2 linked regions of the Homo sapiens genome follow. The protein of the gene in region 2 interacts with the protein of the main gene of each other region in a pairwise test. Each region holds a gene or a part of one and is shown on either strand. Other genes may lie near its edges.

Region 1 (4,924 bases), on a different chromosome or scaffold from region 2:
AGAAGTTAGCGTAAGTCAGCCTGGGCTGTGGACAATGGGCTCCAAGTGCCCTGGTCTCACCCCAGGTCGTGCAGCCTGGGAAGCTGTGAGTGATGGGCTGGGGCAGGGGCTGTTTGCATGATGGGGGGTGCAGGTGATTCCTGCCCAGAGGGGAAGGGCAACCCTGGGATTTGGTGCTCACTGTCCAATGTGCTTTGCTTCTGTGTCTCCTCTCTTCTGGAACTGAACAGTCTATTCAACAACAAATTGACTGACGGCTGTGCACACTCCATGGCTAAGCTCCTTGCATGCAGGCAGAACTTCTTGGCATTGAGGTGAGCCCAGGTTTTCCTTATTCCCTGGAAACTATTTTTTGCCCCATTCCTGAGTCAGTCTGATCTGGTCTTGGCCTGGCACTGCCCACACTGGCTCCTGACCTCCTGATTGAATGCAGGGACAGTGTCTCATTTTAAGCAGGGGTTCTCTAATGCTGTGATCTCCCCAGTAAACTCTGGACTAGCTCTGCTGAGGACTTCCTGTCTTTTGACCTTTAGCCCGTAGGGCAAGAAAGCTTTTCTAGGCCCCTTTCCTTTTCTGTGTCTAAGAGTGTCACAGCTTTCTGGGTTTACTGAGTTCCACGATGCATGTTGAGCTCGTCCTGGTGGGGGAGGCATACACAGTTACTTGCCACCCCAGCTGTGGCAGCGAGTTGCTGCAACACTCCCAGGAGGTCCTTTCACCACTCAGAGCATGCAAGGTTTGCAGTCCATCTGGTTCTGCATTTCTGCTACTCCAGTGTCTCCCAGTTTCAACAGGAGTCTCTCTCTCTCCTACCTGATGCCTTTAAATTGCCCCTCTAGCTGGCCGCTGGGTTGGCCTGGCTTCTCTCTCCTTCTCTCTCTCTCAGATATTCTTGCCTCCTGTGATTTGTGAGGCAGTAAAAAAAGACAAAGTAAAGAATTGCTTCCATCTATTCTTTTACCTCTTGGGCTGGGTTTGTGGATGGGAGCCGCCATTTTAAAATGGCGGGCCACATAGCTCAGTCTCGGCAAGGGCTACTGAGATCAGAACCACAGGTGCCAATTTGTACAAAGGACTCAGTCCTGCTACCACTGCCTGATCCCTCAGACTCACAAGCCTGGAATAGGCTGTGGCCAGACCTGGCTGGCCCATCCCTGAGAAGGGTGCTAGTTTCAGAAATGGAGGCTGAGTTTGTGGCCAACACAGTAGTCCTCCGGTATGTGCAGGAGAGATGTTCTAAGACCCCAGTGGATGCCTGAAACCATGGAGAGTATCAAGCCCTACACATACCATGCTTTTCCCAATACCTACACACCTGCAATAAAGTGTAGTTTATAAATTAGGCACAGTAAGAGAGTAATAGCAACTCATAATAAAATAGAACAATTATAACAATCAATGTACTATAATAACACTATGTGAATGTGGACTCTCTCCATCTCCCTCAAAATATCTTCTTGTACTGTACTCACCCTTCTTCTTGGGAAGATGTGTGGTGGTAAAATGCCTGTGTGATGGGAGGAAGTGAGGTGGATGACGCATGCAGCACTGTGCTCTAGCGCTGGGCTGCTGTTGACCTGACCACACTTCAGGAGGAGAATCATCTGCTCCCAGAGATCCCTAATCTTTGAGCAACAATGAGGTCGGCAGCTGGATGTCAGGAGCAGACGATCTTGATGATTACCAAATGGGAGCGTATAGAGCGTGGATGCGCTGGACGGGGGGCTGATTCACGTCCTGGGTGGGATGGAGCTGGATGGCACGTGATCAGAATAGCATGCAATTTAAAATGTATGAATTGTTTATCTCTAGAATTTTCCATTTAATATTTTTGGACTGCAGTTGATTTCAGATAACTGAAACCATAGAAGGCGAAGCTGCGGATAAGCAGGGGGCAGGGATTACCGTATATCATTGTAATAGAGAGCACAGGCTCTGGAGCCAGACTGCCCGAGGTTTGAACCCTCATTAGCTGCGTGACCTCAGGTCAGCCCAATGTCTGTGTGCCTCCGTTTCCCCTTCTGTAGAATGGAGGTAATAACCCTGGCTACCTCACAGGCTGTAGTGATGAGCAAGCAAGTTAATCCACATGAAGGGCTGCACCGTCTGGCAGGGGCTTTATATAGTAAGCGAGTGGCTGAAAGATGATGGGTAAATCACACAAGCACTCAGCTTGTTTCTCCTTATGTGAGTCCGGTCCTCCAAGCAGGGATTCAATGTGCCACCCATTTATTGGGGAAAAGTCCTAAAAGGGGAAGTGGGGAAGGGAGCTGGGGGAGGCTGGGAGGTGTGTCCCTGAGTGAAGGAGAGAGGGAAGGAAGGAAGGTTGAGACTGGGCACCTTGGACTTCAGTGCAGTCCTAAGACATCTTGGCAAGGCTGATGAGGAGTTCTTGAACCAAATTCACCAGGCAGGGGAGCCTGATGTCTCAGGCAGGGGCTGGCAAGTGCAGATGCGAGGATGTTAGATTTTGGAGCACAGCAGCTGGGGCCCTTGGCTACCTCCAAGGAGCTGAGGCTGGAGACCTGAAAGGCGAGTTCTCCTAGCTGCCACACCCCTTCTCCAAGGATACAATAATATCTGCCTTATAGGATTGTTGTGAGCTGAGTGGCTTGACGTTCCTTGAAAGAATGAAAGCGTATAGTTATCCCAGGAAGCCTAGGGTTGCAGGTGAGAGCTCTGGGGCTTCTCCGAAGCTCTCCGAGGTGTCTGGATTCAGTTGCAGCAGGAGCCTTCCTTGCTGGGATCTTCCCCCACCCCTAGCCTTGGCCCTCCCTCTCTCCTTCCTTTCTGGAAGGCTCAGTGGGCCCCACCCCTCCCTCCAGCCACCTGGACCTGCCCAGCGCTCTTGTGCAACAGGTAAAGCCTACCTGTAGCAACAACAGATCTGGGAAGGCTGCAGAGGGCACGATGGGGTCTGGATCGAGGGCGGCTGAGACCAGAGGGAAAGGTGTGACCCTGAGTCACCCTCGCTGTCCCGGGGAAACCACCTCCCAGGACAGCTGCCTACTGTGGCTCCTGCCTGGAATTGTCACACTGCTGTGCAAACAGCGTCCCGCTGCCCCTTTCCCTTTGCTGGGGGAAAATGAAGTTGTGGGAGCCGCTGAGTAAACTAGACCTAGCAGCGAGGGCACCTGATGTGGCTGCTGCCTCCCGGGCAGGTCTTCAATGCTTTCTTCCTGTGTTTCCCTGGCCAGGGCACAGACGGCCCTCCTTTTCTGCCTGCCGCTGTGTTCTCTCAGCCTCCTCTGTCTTCCCTTCCAGGCTGGGGAATAACTACATCACTGCCGCGGGAGCCCAAGTGCTGGCCGAGGGGCTCCGAGGCAACACCTCCTTGCAGTTCCTGGGGTAGGTTGGATTCCAGGAAGAGGGACCTGCATGGAGGGGCTTGGGACTTTTGAGGATTTAGGGGCAGGTGAAACTCTTCAGCCAGGAGGCCCCAGAGGCAGCCCAGCTCCAGTGGGGAGGACAAGCCAGGGAGAGAGTGGGCGGCCCTTGACTGCCACCTTCATACTTGGTCTATGCCTGACAAACAGGAAGTTTGGGATGTTGGGGCTAGGGGAGGACAGTGCCCACGAGCTGGTGACAGGAAGCCCTCTGATCCTCAGGGGGCGCTAGGGCTGTACTTTAGCTGCATATTAAAACCACCTGGAAGCTTCTAAACACTATTGCCAGGCCTCCCACCCCAGACTGATGAAATGCAAATATCTAGGTGCAAGGCCCAGGTATCAGGAGTTTTAAAAAGCTTCCCAGGGGATGTACAGCCAGGGGTGAGGACCCCTGACCTAAGAAAGAGAAGGAAATGGGGAAGGATAGGAAGGCACCCAGGATAAGAGGGGCTGTGCTAGGTCCCTCGGAGCTCTTGCTCCCTGTAGGACCATGCTAGGGCCTGCCAGGGAGGGGAGTACCCCAACCTGCAGCCCCAGGGTGGGCTTCCTCTGTTTGCTAGGCACCCAGGCTTGCACCTGTGCTGTTTCCAGCAGCCTCTCTCCTATCCTGTCATGCCCTAGTGTGAACTGGAGTCCATTTGACAAGAACTGGGAGTTTTAGAACCTGGGACTGTAGGAAGAGAGAATAACCTTAGGGCCTAGGTGTTCCAGCCCATTTCACAGGGAGGCAAGTTGCCCCCAAGCTCAGTTTTTTGTTTTGTTTTGTTTTGTTTGAGATGTAGTCTCACTCTGTTGCCCAGGCTAGAGTGCAGTGGCACGATCTTGGCTCACTGCAACCTCCGCCTCCTTGGTTCAAGCGATTCACCTGCCTCAGCTTCTCAAGTAGCTGGGATTATAGGCACCCACCACCACGCCCAGCTAATTTTTGTATTTTTAGTAGAGACAGGGTTTCACCATGTTGGCCCGGCTGGTCTTGAACTCCTGATCTCAGATGATCCGCCCGCCTCGGCCTCCCAAAGTGCTGGGATTACAGGTGTGAGCCACCGCACCCGGCCCCCAAGCTCAGTTTGAGCCACAAATGGGACTATGTTGCTCTAGAAATCAACATCTTTTCCACACTGCATTAGTAGCAACAGAGTCTAGAACAAAGGAGGCCACAGCCCCACTGAACTCTCTTCTGCTTGAGGTCACATCTGCCACATCAGGGGTATTTACCTCTTTCAACACATATTTATTAGGGCACCTGTCTGGGCCAGGCGTTGTGCTAAAACCCCCAAACGCTGTCATATGATACAAAGTGTTCTGTAACTTGCTTGGTTTTTTTTTTTGTTTGTTTGTTTGTTTTGTTTTGTTTTTGTTGTTGTTTTTTTTTGCTTCGCCATATATTATAGGAATTTTTTTAGGTCATTATGACCTCTTTATTTACTTAATTATCTATTTATTTATTTTACTAATATTTACAGAAAGGGTCTCACTCTGTCACCCAGGCTGGAGTGCAGTGGTTGCAATCATAGCTCATTGTAGCCTTGAACTCC
Region 2 (4,924 bases):
CAAAATTACAAATGCATACACCCTCTGACTCATCAATTCCATTTCTAGGAATTTATGTGACAAATATACAAATATACAAACATATACACATATATAGGCAAAACTTAAATTCAATGTCAGTAAAAGCAAAAGACTAGAAAAAATTTAAATGTCTACACATATATATATACATATATGGGCAAAACTTACACTGCAGTGTCAGTAAAAGCATAAGACTAGAAAAAAATCTAATTGTCTATCAATAGGAACTGATTTAAAAAATTATGACAAATCCAAACACAGTGTAGTGGTAAAAAAGGAATGAAGAATGAAGATATATTTACTGATGTTGGGTTAAGTGAACAAAATGCCAAAAAAAAAAGTATTTCTATTAAGCATACTATTTGTGTTAAAAGGAGGGTGGGGAGGAGATATACCTATAGATTATCTCTGGAAGTATACTACTAACACAGGTGGCTTCCAGGAGGAGGAAATGAACAGCAGGGCACCAGGAGACATTTCCCCCTATACGCTCGTGTATCTTTTGAATTTTGAACCATATGAATGTCTTACCTAAAGAAAATTAAGCTGGGTGCAGTGGCTCACGCCTGTAATCCCAGCACTTTGGGAGGCTGAGGTGGCTGGATCAAAGGTCAGGAGTTCGAGACCAGACTGGCCAACATGGTGAAACTCTGTCTCTACCACAAATACAAAAAAATTAGCTGGGCATGGTGGCGAATGCTTGTAATCCCAGCTACTCAAGAGGCTGAGGCAGAGAACTGCTTGAACCCAGGAGGTGGAGGTTGCAGTGAGCCGAGATCGCGCCACTGCACTCCCGCCTGGGTGACACGCTGCAGCCTTTTAAAAAGTCCTCTTTATTTTTTTCTCTCATCTAACTTTTTCTTTCTCATTCCCTCCTATTAACATTTCCAGTTCATTTTACTCTCCTCTATTTACGCCTATTAGGGACATTTACTACAACTGCTTAGCCCAGTTGGGAGTCCAGTTACTAAATGCCAACAAGGTTGGTGAACTCTGTTCTAGTAATTGTCATAAAAAATGGGTGACAACATCAGCTATAAAAGAAATCTGAGTATTTACAGAAGGGTAGATAACTATACTTAAACAGGAAACAAAAAAATAAGAAAGGTGAAGGAATAAGGGGATACTCATTCAATATTCTCTGCTTTGTCCATTCTTAGTTTATTACCTTTAAAAAAAAAACCTCTTAATAAAAACAAAGTACGCTAGAAAAGTGATTTTTCCCTCTCTGTTAATTAAGGAACCAAACCTGCCTTCTCAACAAGACTATATAGTGGCCCAACACATAGAATACCTAAAGAATCAGTAGACACCATGGTCACTGCTCTTTAGTTACTTAATGTTTTCTCTTTTCATTTCCATTAGGTCATTTATTTGCAAACAGATCCACATATTGTTATTTCACATGCTAATATCTAGTTTTGTCAAATTTTATGTCACGTACTCAATATTTTTTGCATCTCAGATACTGAAATAAAGGCCTAGAGTCTCATCTGCCAAAGTTGAAACATAATTCTCTCTCATACGATGCTAAATAACTCCTTTTTTGTCTAAAGCAACGTTTGCTTCTAGAAATAACTAAATCATAACTGATTTGTCCTCAATACAGTTGTAACTGGGGGAAAAAGATATAACTGGTCCTGTGGTATATGGGAATCTGGGTAAGAACTACTGCTAACAGGATGTCATAGACAAAGACCACTGTTCAACTGTGTATTCACATGTAGTGTGACTAGCAACTATCATAAAGAAAAGCTCTTTGCCTCAGAAGTTCTAAAAAAAATTGAAAGCTCACAGGCTCCAAATTATTAATAATAATCAAATCTACCTGTATACTTTTTAATTTATAAAGCATTTCCCATACATCAAAGAAAATCAGAAGCTCAAATTAATGAACTGATTTTCCAGCTAAGATTTAAATCCAAGTCATTCCAATATACAGCTGTACATTATCTATTATCTATCTATTCTTAGTTTAAGTAGGTAGATATACCTAACTCACGAGTAGATGAATAGTTACATGAAAACGTTCTTTCCCAAGGTCTAAAGTGCTATTCTTACCTTTTTTTTTTTCTTTTTTTTTTTTGAGACAGGGTCTGGTTCTGTGGCACAGACTGGAGTACAGTGGCATGACTACAGCCCACTGTAACCTTGAACTCTTGGTATCAAGTGATCCTCCCACCTTGTCCTCCCAAAATGCTGAGACTACAGGAGTGAGCCACTGTGCCCAGCCTGCTAGTCTTATTTTATCCAAACCCTACATCGGTTTCCTCCATCAGATACAAAAGTCCTGCCTACCAGTAACATTTCTCTGAATAACTTTTCAAAATGCCCAACGTTTACTAAAATCAAATAAGTGCGTTTTTTTCTAAAACTACTAATTTTCAATTAAAAAATATAAGATTTTCATTTCTTTACAAATCATAGAGCAGAAAAATTTATCCAGAATTACATTGAGATTCCTGACATTTGTGACCACAAAACATATAAAACTGCCACATGGGAAAAGACAGGTCTCTGAACTTCACACAAAAGGTAATTAATATTTTTAAAGCAGAGTGAACACACATGTGAAATATACATCATATAGTTATACAAACTAAATTAATTTTCTAACTTGGCATAATGACAGGGTAGCTTGGAGGGAATATAAAAGAAAATACTCAAGAGCTTAAAATTAACAATGGGCCCATTTATTCAAGGTAGGATGGCTCTCTCATTTCAGCTTGAGGACTGAAAGTCTTTCTGTCTTCCGGTAGGAGGGAAACTGCAGCTGGCAGGTCTGGAGAATCGCTCAACTACATTCACAGCTTTACTTGGAGTCAAGCAATGGCAAGAAAAGTCTTCATCTTCACTAGGCACTGGACAACACGGAGAAATGCTGACTTTGAGGTGTTTAAATTTCATCCTTTGAGGATCAGTTCAATTAACTTCTCCTAAAGGAAACCAACCCCCACAAACAAAAGATTTACACCCACTGAAACTGAGAAACACTTATCAGAATCTGTCATTTCATAGAATATTGACTTGTGACAGGTCTTACGACACTGTCTAGTTCTATAGCACTGTGCTTATTTCTTTTCCATCCAACCTTTGTACTCCCCACTTTGTATCTTCTTCAGTGGCTTCTAGGAAGTATTACTATAACTACTGAATCAATGAATTCATAGCAAAGTGTTTCACAATTCTGTCCTTCTCTGTTCTGTGTTAGACTCCCAAACAGGGCTCCATAATCCAAGCAATAGTAAGTTTCTTCTGCTTTTCAAATCCAATTAGAATTTTGTCCAAGCTTATAACAATTTATCCTCCCCTAACTCTTGAGAATCAAAGTCATTGTTATTTAGATGTTAAAAAGTTTGACCTAATTCTTATCTCTTAAAGAAACATCTAAAATGTGTTTACAGAGAATTGGGATATCATCTTCAGGTAATCCAAATATTGACAGTGAAGAAAAGAGCCCAAACATAATGAGAAAGTAACACACAGCAGAGTATTTCAACTTTAGGATATAACAACTTAAAAGATGTTACTCACAAATATATAATCTTTATCAACTGGCCAAAATATAGCCTTGAATTATCCAACAAGTCTCCTATTTCTTGTTATAAAATATACTGGCAAAAACCAACAAACCCACACTGCTACAATGAAACCCATCCTCACATTCCATGGCTTCAGGGCAATTCCATAAACACAGGATCATAAAAAGACAGCCTGCAAACTTAGGTAGCCCGCACTCCATTTTAAGGATCGGAAATTAAATGACATGTGATCATCCAGCTACAGCAACCTGAGGATCTTTTTAAAAAGCTAGCAGGAACTGGCAATCTTATGTTAGAAATCCACCAACAAAACAGTATACAAAATTCATACAATACAGATGATGAAGAAATTTGAGTCCAACGTGAAAATGTTATAGCTTGTATGCTTTAGGATACAAGTTGTATTCAGCATATTCACATGCTGATACAACAAAATCTAAAGAAAATGGAATGTTCAAGTCCCTGCTAGTGGCTTATCTCATAACACAATTCGATACACCAGAGCTCCAGTGTTATAAAGGAATGTAAATGACCCTTTGGAGTTCAACATAATAATACCTAATCAGAGGAAAAATTGCACAGTTTTGAACTCTAAAGATGCAGATTCCCAGCTAAGTACAAACTTCTGATTTTTTTTCCTTTCTTAATTTCAGTGGACAATAAGTTTAAAAAAACAAAACAAAACCATAACTGTATGTTCCCTACAACTACGGGGGTTAAATATTTAATGTTTCAAGTCTCTAAATAGTTTTCTTTTTAAAGTTTATAATATTATTATAAAAGATAATTGAGAGACTGCCAGACCTTGCTAAGAATTTCATGTGCATTATTAAAGTAAGTGAATCATTAAATTACATGTTTTAAGCATGCTTTCAGGTTTTAATTGTTTCTTGATACTATTAATTAAAGAACCTGATGACCAGTAATATCCCAGTAATTTTACATAATTAAGGCAGAAAAAGTATAACCAAAGAACTAATTAAGATGAGAGTAAGTTAAAAATTTATAACATTAACAATCTTACCACAATATAAATTAGTTATTAAACGCAAACCTTTATTAGGCAATGTTACTAGGCATATTTAAACCACACAAGGGGTTAAAAATAACTACAATGAAAGGCCAAGAGCCTAGCAGCCCGATTGAGCCAACATTCCCTTCTCTCCTTCCCCTCCCCTTCCAATCCTCTCCAGTCCAGAATGAATTGCATGCCCCACTGCACAAGGCCCAAAAAGGTCACAGTAGATGGCAGAGACTTTTGTAAGAGAACAGAAATAACTCAGCAGCTTTGTTACCATAGTCTCTTTTAATCAGTATGTTCAAAATCCTTTAATTAGCACTCTGTCTACACAAGGAAAGCA

What was found. Proteins that work in one complex are often made in the same cells at the same time.
Region 1: the proteins of PDLIM5 (region 2) and NOD2 interact in a two-hybrid assay, tested with the Homo sapiens proteins (one large-scale study listed by BioGRID).

Annotation. Positions count from the first base shown.
Region 1 is NC_000016.10:50,716,661-50,721,584, forward strand, and holds part of NOD2 (nucleotide-binding oligomerization domain-containing protein 2), read left to right. Parts: coding exon 1-10; intron 11-230; coding exon 231-314; intron 315-3,264; coding exon 3,265-3,348; intron 3,349-4,924. UniProt on the Homo sapiens protein: Pattern recognition receptor (PRR) that detects bacterial peptidoglycan fragments and other danger signals and plays an important role in gastrointestinal immunity.
Region 2 is NC_000004.12:94,457,804-94,462,727, reverse strand, and holds part of PDLIM5 (PDZ and LIM domain protein 5), read right to left. Parts: intron 1-4,924. UniProt on the Homo sapiens protein: May play an important role in the heart development by scaffolding PKC to the Z-disk region. May play a role in the regulation of cardiomyocyte expansion. Isoforms lacking the LIM domains may negatively modulate the scaffolding activity of isoform 1.